Linked DNA regions of Homo sapiens: regions 1 and 3 are each linked to region 2. The links come from fine-mapping of genetic effects on gene expression. A gene starts in region 2. Each other region holds a variant in brackets. All regions are shown on one strand. Distances are from middle to middle.

Evidence for each region. PIP is the estimated chance that this variant, and not a neighbour inherited with it, causes the effect.
Region 1: its variant is the best candidate, but not a certain one, in a credible set for the expression of SLC17A7 in aorta (GTEx, PIP 0.68).
Region 3: its variant is the best candidate, but not a certain one, in a credible set for the expression of SLC17A7 in prefrontal cortex (ROSMAP, PIP 0.67).

What each region holds. Positions count from the first base shown.
Region 1 is chr19:49,466,742-49,469,496 of GRCh38, reverse strand. ALDH16A1 (aldehyde dehydrogenase 16 family member A1) reads right to left here. Exons shown (of 17, transcript NM_153329.4): 15 at 931-1,116; 16 at 511-633. Among named protein-coding and RNA genes, the nearest start is that of FLT3LG, 6.1 kb to the left of the region's middle. RefSeq lists a silencer at 1-43 and an enhancer at 464-663. The variant G/A (reference allele first, on the strand shown) is at 1,158.
Region 2 is chr19:49,440,083-49,442,837 of GRCh38, reverse strand. It overlaps SLC17A7 (solute carrier family 17 member 7), which reads left to right and starts at 1,311. Exons shown (of 12, transcript NM_020309.4): 1 at 1,311-1,520. The coding sequence starts at 1,459.
Region 3 is chr19:49,769,324-49,772,078 of GRCh38, reverse strand. The region is part of intron 1 of AP2A1 (adaptor related protein complex 2 subunit alpha 1); the gene reads right to left. Among named protein-coding and RNA genes, the nearest start is that of AP2A1, 3.7 kb to the right of the region's middle. RefSeq lists an enhancer at 1-674. The variant G/A (reference allele first, on the strand shown) is at 1,118.

The sequences.
Region 1 (2,755 bases), 27 kb before region 2:
CGGGCAGATCACTTGAGCCCAGGAGTTCAAGATCAGCCTGGCCAACATAGAGAAACCCCAGTCTCTGCAAAAGAAAAAAATTAGCTGGGCATGGTGGTGCACGCCTGTGGTCCCAGCTACTCAGGAAGCTGAGGTGGGACGGTGGCTTGAGCCTGGGAGGTTGCGGCTGCAGTGAGGTATGATTGCATCTGGGTGACAGGGTGAGGTTCTGTCTCAAAATAGAAAAACAAAGCGTAGACTGTGGGCCTCCAAATCTAGGGTGTGGTCCTTAGCAACGGGCTGTCCCCTGAGACGAGGTCTTTGGGCTAGGCAGCTCTCAGGCCCCTGTTGCTAAGGACAGCCTCTTCCTTAGTAACTTGAGTCCTAAGGGCGGGGCCTCAAAACCTTCTTGTCAAGGAGTTTCTCCCCTTACCAACAGGAGTTCTAAGAGGGCGGGGCTGTGTTTCCAGAAAAGGAGGAGCCTGTTTGAAGTTTGAGATGCTGAAGATGGCAAAACAGAACAAAGAGCACCTGGGCTGATCCGAAATACCACATGGCCTGGACGTCTTGGTGCAAGGCCAGGCAGCGGGTCAGATGGTCCCGGTCTCCTGTCACCACGTTGGCCAGGCCTGCTGGGAACACGGTGGCCATGTCCTAGGGGATAGAGAGAGTGAAAGGTTGGGGAGGCCGTGGGGGCAGGGCAAGGAGTGGGCATTCAGGGGGTGCCCATGGGAGGGAAGGGGATGGGGGGTCATGGAGGAGAAAGCCCCAGGCCTAGGGTGAAGAATGGGCACTGGGTCCCCAAGGAGTGAAGGTTTGGGTGCTGGGGCTGGGGGCAGCATGGGTACCACGGAGGGTGGGGTAAGAGACAAGCTCCTGCCGACTTTGGGGCGCCTTTTTCTGCTGCCCTGAGGCTACGGGGAGGAGAGGCAGGAAGGCAGGGGGCTATACCTGGCAGACCTCCAGGGCCAGCAGAGGACAGGCCGCACTGGGCACCATGACCACAGTGTTGCCGTAGGCCAGGGCGGGAGCCAGCAGGGACACGAAGGCAAGCAGGGGCCACTCGTCCGGACACACCACAGCCAGCACACCCAGCGGCTCCCGCAGGCGCAGCACAGGGCCTCTCAGCCCGGCTACCTGCAGGGACAGGTGGGTCACGTGTGGGGCAGGGGAGCCCC[G/A]CCCGCAGTAAATGAGAGATCCAGTTCCTCTACATTCTCCCCAACACTTGGTGTTGGCCCAAACCGCACCATTGTGGAAGCCCCTGCCATTTCGCAGACGCTGGTCAAAGTGAATCATTCCACGGGGGTTCGGGCGGTGAGAAACATCCTGCATAACCGCCTTTCTTTTTTTTTTTTTTTGAGACGGACTCTCACTCTGTCGCCCTGGCTAGAGTGCAGTGGTGCGATCTTGGCTCACTGCAACCTCCGCCTCCCGGGTTCACGCCATTCTCCTGCCTCAGTCTCCTGAGTAGCTGAGACTACAGGCACCTGCCACCATGCCCGGCTAATTTTTTTTTTTTGTATATTTAGTAGAGACGGGGTTTCACTGTGTTAGCCAGGATGGTCTCGATCTCTTGACCTTGTGATCTGCCCACCTTGGCCTCGCAAAGTGCTGAGATTACAGGCGTGAGCCACTGCGCCTGGTCTATTTTCTTTTGTTAAAAATAAATATGGTGTTGGGGGGTGGGAGGCAAGGGGAGGGAACTTAGAGGGCAGGTCAATAGGTGCAGCAAACCACCATGGCACGTGTATCCCTATGTAACAAGCCTGCGCGTTCTGCACATGTATCCCAGAACTAAAGTAAAATAAAATTTAAAAAAAAGAAGGCCGGGTGTAGTGGCTCACACCTGTAATCCCAGCACTTTGGGAGGCCAAGGTGGGCGGATCACGAGGTCAGGAGATCGAGACCATCCTAACATGGTGAAACCCTGTCTCTACTAAATATACAAAAAAAAAATTAGCCGGGTGTGGTGGTGGGCACCTGTAGTCCCAGCCACTCGGAAGGCTGGGGCAGGAGAATGGCGTGAACCTGGGATGCAGAGGTTGCAGTGAGCCGAGATTGCGCCACTGCACTCCAGCCTGGGCGACAGAGCGAGACTCTGTCTCAAAAAAAAAAAAAAAAGAAAGAAAGAAATATGGTTTGGCCCATGATATAGTTCAGATGTCCCACCCAAATCTCATGTTGAAATGTAATCCCTGGCCAGGCGCAGTGGCTCACGCCTATAATCCCAGCACTTTGGGAGGTCAAGACAGGCGGATCACTTGAAGCTAGGAGTTCAAGATCAGCCTGGGCAACATGGCGAGTCTCTTGTCTCTGCAAAAATACAAAAACACCCAGTCATGTGTGCTGGTGTGTGCCTGTGATCCCAGATACTCAGGAGGCTGAGGTGGGGGGCTCACTTGGACCTCGGAGGTTGAGGCTGCAGTGAGCCATGATTGTGGCACTGCACTCCAGCCGGGTGCCAGAGGGAGACTGGTGCCAACATGCCCAGCTAATTTATCTATTTTTTGTGGAGACAGGGTTTCACTGTGTTGCCCAGGCTGGTTTCAAACTCCTGGCCTCAAGCGATCCACCCACTTTTGCCTCCCAAAGTGCTAGGATTACAGGCGTGAGCCACCATGTCTGGCCAGGTATTTTTTGTTTTTTGTTTTTTTTTGTGACACAAGGTCTCACTCTGTCACTCAGGCTGGAGTGCAGTGGCACGATCTCGGCTCACTGCAACCACTGCCTCCTGGGTTCAAGCAATTTTCCTGCCTCAGCCTCCTAAGTAGCTGGG
Region 2 (2,755 bases):
TGGGGCCGGGGCAAGACTGGGAGGGTAGGGAGAGATCCAGGGGGCGGGGAGAACTGGGTGGGCGGGGACAGATCCCATGGGGCAGGGGTAGAACACAGAGGGCGGGGACAGATCCCAGGGACGGAGGCCAGAACTCGGTGGGTGGGGACAGATTCCAGGGGGCAGAGATAGATCCTGTGGGGAAGGGGTAGAACTCAGATGGCAGGAACAGATTCCAGGGGGCAAGGACAGAACTGAGAGGGCGGGAACAGAGCCAGGGACAGATCCTAGGAGAAGGGGACACAACTCCAACGGTGGGGAGAGAACTCAGAGGGCGGGGGCAGAACTCAGGTCAGCGACAGATCCTAGGGGAGGAGACAAATTCAGAGGGCGGGTGAGGATGCCAGGGGGTGCGGATCACAATTTAGGGGGCGGGACAGATCTCAGGGGGTGGAGACAGAACTCAAATAGAGGAATGGATCCCCCGGAGCTAGGGAAGAACTCAGAGCGCGGACAGATCCCAGAGGAGCAGAGAAATAACACAATGGGGAGACTATGGGGTCGCAGCTGGCACTGGCGGGGTGTGTGAAATATAACTGTGGGGGGCGGAAGCCAGAGGGAAGAAAATCGGGGTTAGGGAATGAAACTCAGGGAGAGAAGCAACAGGGAGGAGAGAGACGCCGGAGGGAGAATAGAGCTGGAGGAGTATGGGATTCAAAGGGGAAAGATGGAAACTAAGGAGGAGATGGAGCTCAAGGGTGAAGAACCCGGGTGGCGAAAGGGACTAGAGGGGGACGACAGGTGGATCGAAGTAGGCGTTGGACTTGAGGGGAAAGAATTTCCCTTGAATGAGAAAACAAAGAACTCCCTGGATGAGACTATTGGAACTGGGGACGAGGTGGGATGGGGATGGAATTGCGGGGTGGGGGCGGGGAGGAGTGAAGGAACTGGAGGATGAACGCAGAGGGAAAGTCAGAGAAGACAGGATTGTAAGGGACGCAATTAGGGGGAACAGAAGTCGGGGAGAGAAATGATGGGGATGAGAACTCAGGAGAGGAGAGAAAATCTGGGTAGGAGCCAGGGGTGATGGAACAGGGATAGGGGGAGTAGCCTGGGGAAGGAACAGAATTGGGGGGCGTGAACTCGGAGGCGTGAGTTCAGAACCCACAGGCGTGGTCTTGGAAGGCTCAGGAGGGGACAGGACGAGGATGAAAGGGCTGCGAGAGGGGGCGGGTCTGACAGACGAGGGGAGGGGCCTGGTGGGGCCGGGGCGGGGCCTCCCGCGCCCCGCCCCCGGCGCTGAGTCCTGTGACAGCCCCCGGGCCGCCTGCACTTGCAGCCTCCTTCCCCCCGAGCGGAGCTGCGGGGCCGGCCGGGCCGGGGCTGGACCCCGGGAACCCGGACGCGGCCGCCCGGGCCCGCGGGCGGGGGGATCGGCGGGGGGGACCCGCGGGGTGACCGGCGGCAGGAGCCGCCACCATGGAGTTCCGCCAGGAGGAGTTTCGGAAGCTAGCGGGTCGTGCTCTCGGGAAGCTGCACCGGTGAGCCTGGCGGGGGTCCCGGGAGAAGAGTGGGAGGATCTGAGGAGGATGCTAATTCCCACCTGGGCGCAGACTGACAGATGAACGGGCGATACCCCGGCATGGGGGTCCACCCATCTGTCCAGTTTTCTGCCGTGGGCTCCGACGGCGCTGTTCTCCCTGGTCGAGCCTTGTCCATTATCCTGTTCCTTTTTCTGCACCCCACCCCACCCGGCTCCACTCTCTCTGGTGCTGTAAATGCCTCTCTCCCGGGTCTCTGGCTCCTCCCCCACCACTTCTGGGTCTCTGTCCCCGTCTCTTTCTGGATGTCTCTGCCCCTTTTCTCTCTGGGTCTCCGTCTCCCTCTTTTTCCAGATCTCGGCTCCCTTCTCTCTGGGCCCCTCCTTCTCCCTAGATCTCTGCCTCCGCTTCTTTGCGTCTCTGTGCCCCTCTCTCTGGTTCTCTGGCCATTGCTCTCACTGGATCTCTATCAACTCCTGACTCAGAGTCTCTGTCCCCCTCTTTCTGGGTCTCTCCTCTTCCCTGGATCTCTGGTCCCCACTTCTCTGGGTCCCTGTCCCCGTCTCTGTGTTTTAATTCTCCCACCATGGGTCTCTCCGTCTCTCTGTGTCTTTTTCCGTTTCTGTCTGGCATGGAGTTTAATCTGCAGCTAAAGCGGATTGGGGCTCATAGCCCGTTGTCCTTGAGGGGGTGAGGCTGGGTGGAAGAAGTCACAGCACCCTGGGTCCCTGGGAGAGAAAGGAGTTAGAGGCCAAAAATTTCGGCTCCTGGGGTAGGACAGCCTTCCCAAAGGATACAGGCTGGGGCTGACAGGGACTCCCTCCCAACCAGGTTGATGACCCCAGTGAACCGAGTGTCCCTCAGGATAATCTGGACACCTCCCCACAGGCTCTCACCCCCAACCCCAGCTTTGGCTCTAAGTCAGATAAATTACTCAGCTGCGGAAAAGCCTAAAAATATATCTGGCCACAGTGCACGAAGGAGATGGCCTCATCAGCACCATGCCCCTGCCGCCGTGCCCTCAGGCCCTGTCCCCTTGGCCCACAGCCCTGACCCTGTGTTTCGCTGAGCTTCAGTCCACCTCGCTAGGCCATGGGGGTCCTTTGCTAAGTCTAACATCAGTCTTGCTTGCTGCAGATCACCTCTTAGCTCCAAAGTTACCCCACCCTCTAGTAACATGAGAGACAAGAATAAGGCTGGACAGAAGTGGGGGGAGGTGGGCAGGAGGATGGTGC
Region 3 (2,755 bases), 330 kb before region 2:
CAAAAAAAAGAAAGAGAGACAGGGTCTTGCTATGTTGCCAAGGCTGGTCTCAAATTCCTGGCCTCAAGCAATCCTTCTGCCTCCACCTCCTGAGTAGCTGGGACTAGATAGAGATGCCCGCCATGGCGTCCGGAAGTCAGGACCTTTGCACTTGCCCCGCCTCTGCCTTCACAGCTCTTCTCACTGCCCTCAGCCTAGGTAACTCCCCTACTTCCTGCCCACACAGCTCCAAAGGTCTCTTGTGAAGCAAAGCCAGGCCGCAGCTCGCTGACCACACAGAATCCCCATTCTCTCAACACCATGGCCCTCTTCCTCACTGGGCTTAGGACAGCTGCAAATTCTTTCCCCATTTAAAAAAAAATCGAGATACGGCCAGGCGCGGTGGCTCACACCTGTAATCTCAGCATTTTGTGAGGCTGAAGCAGGCAGATCACTCGAGATCAGGAGTTCGAGACCAGCCTGGCCAACATGGTGAAACCCTGTCTCTACTAAAAATACAAAAATCAGCGGGGCATAGTGGCGGGCGCCTATAATCCCAGCTACTCGGGAGGCTGAGGCAGGAGAATCGCTTGAACCTGGGAAATGGAGGGTGCAGTGAGCCAAGATCGCGCCATTTTTGTGACTGTCACAAAAAAAAAGAGATACAATTCACATACCATAAAATTGACCCTTTTACAGTGAACAATTCAGCGTTCTTTAGTACATTCATGATGTTGTGCAACCATTACTACTATCGAATTCCAGGACCTTTCTTTTTTTTTTTTTTTTTTTTTTTAAGAGATGAGGTTTCACTATGTGGCCCGGGCTGGATTCGAACTCCTGGGTTCAAATGATCCTCCTACCTCAGTCTCCCAAGTAGCTGGGACTACAAGCATGTGCCGTGTCCAGCTGTAGGCTTTTTCATGAACCCAAAAGAAGCTCTGAATGCTGCCGGGCATGGTAGCTCACACCTGTAATCCTAGCACTTTGGAAGGCTGGGGTAGTGGATCACCTGAGGCCAGGAGTTCGAGACCATCCTGACCAACATGTAAAAACCCCGTCTCTACTAAAAGTACAAAAATTAGCCAGGTGTGGTGGCACACGCCTGTAATCCCAGCTACTCAGGAAGCTGAGGCAG[G/A]AGAATCGCCTGAACTTGGGAGGCAGAGGTTGCAGTAAGCCGAGATCACCCCATTGCACTCCAGCCTGGGCGACAGAGTGAGACTCCATCTCAAAAAATAAAAAAAGAACCTATGCATTCATGAGCAGTCACTCCCCATCCCACCAGCCCCTACTCTAGGCAACCACTAATCTTTCTGTCTCCATGGATCTGCCTATTCAAGATACTCTATCAACATGGAATCATACAACACGTGGCCTCCTGTGTCTGGCTTCTTTCACTTGGTGTCATGTTTTCAAGGTCCATCCCTGTGGCAGCATGTAGCAGGACGTCATTATTTTTTAAGGCCCGGTAATATTCCACTACATAGACCACACTTTATTTCTCAGTTGATGGGCATTTGGCCCGTTTCTGTTTTCCGGCTATCATGAATAATGTTGCAGTGAACATCCGTGTCCAGGTATTAGTGTGAAGGACTACTGCAATTTGTATGTTGCACCTTCTCCCCCACAGGGCTGGGAGCTTCATGGAGGGGGTGGACAAGTCTGTCCTGTTCACCAGTGTCCCCAGCATTCAGCACAATTCTTGAGACATACCAGCCGTTCAACATACGCTTGCTAAGAAAAGGCTCCTGATTCTCCAGCCCTAATTCCTGTGGCTAAATTACTACCAGTGCCCCAAGCCTGCATCTCCCCTCTGTCCTCTGGCTCGTCTCTGGGGTCCTGCAGTGACGGGACGATCTCTTTCCTTCCCCAACCCCCATCATCAAATCCCTTTGCAAATCCTGACAGTTTTTCCTTCAAGTTGTATCCCAGGCTGGGTGCAGTGGCTCACGCTTATAATGCCAGCACTTTGGGAGGCCAAGGCGGGCAGATCACTTGAGGTTGGGAGTTCGAGACCAGCCTGGCCAACATGGGGAAACCCTGCGTCTACTAAAAATACAAAAATTAGCCAAGCGTGGTGGCGGGTGCCTGTAATCCCAGCTACCGGGGAGGCTGAGGCACGAGAATTGCTTGAACCTGGGAGGCGGAGGTTGCAGTGAGGTATGATCGTGCCACTGCACTCCAACCTGGGCAACAGAGACTGTCTCGGAAAAAAAAATGTATCACCAACCCATTTCTCACCAGTCCCTTCTCACCCTGTTAAGCCAGCACCATCTCTCACCCAGAGGCCTGCAACACCCTCCTAATTTGGTTCCCTGCTTCCATGGCTACCTCTAGAATCTGTTCTCACAGCAGCCAGAGGAATTATCTTAAAACATCAATCGGTCACATCCCTCCCCTGCTCAAAATATTCTCATGCAGACAAAGGCCAAAGTGCTCACCATGGCCCAGAAAGCCTTTCCCGATCCTGTTCCCACTCCCCTCCACACCCGCCCTCTCTCCCCTTCACTCCCACAGCTTCAGCCACACTGACCTTCTCCCTCTCGCTCGAACACATGTCAAGCATGCCGCAACCTCAGGACCTCTGAATGCACCTCCCTGTGCCAGGACCCCTTTCCTCCAAAATCCACAGGGCTTGCTCCACTCAGATATGACTTCCTCCACGAGGCCTACTGAGTACCCTCTCCATCCTAGTCCCTCTCCCGACCATTTCCTCCTTATTTTTCTTCACAGAACCAGTCAGGTCCTGAGGTTGTATATCAGGGTGTTCCCTGTG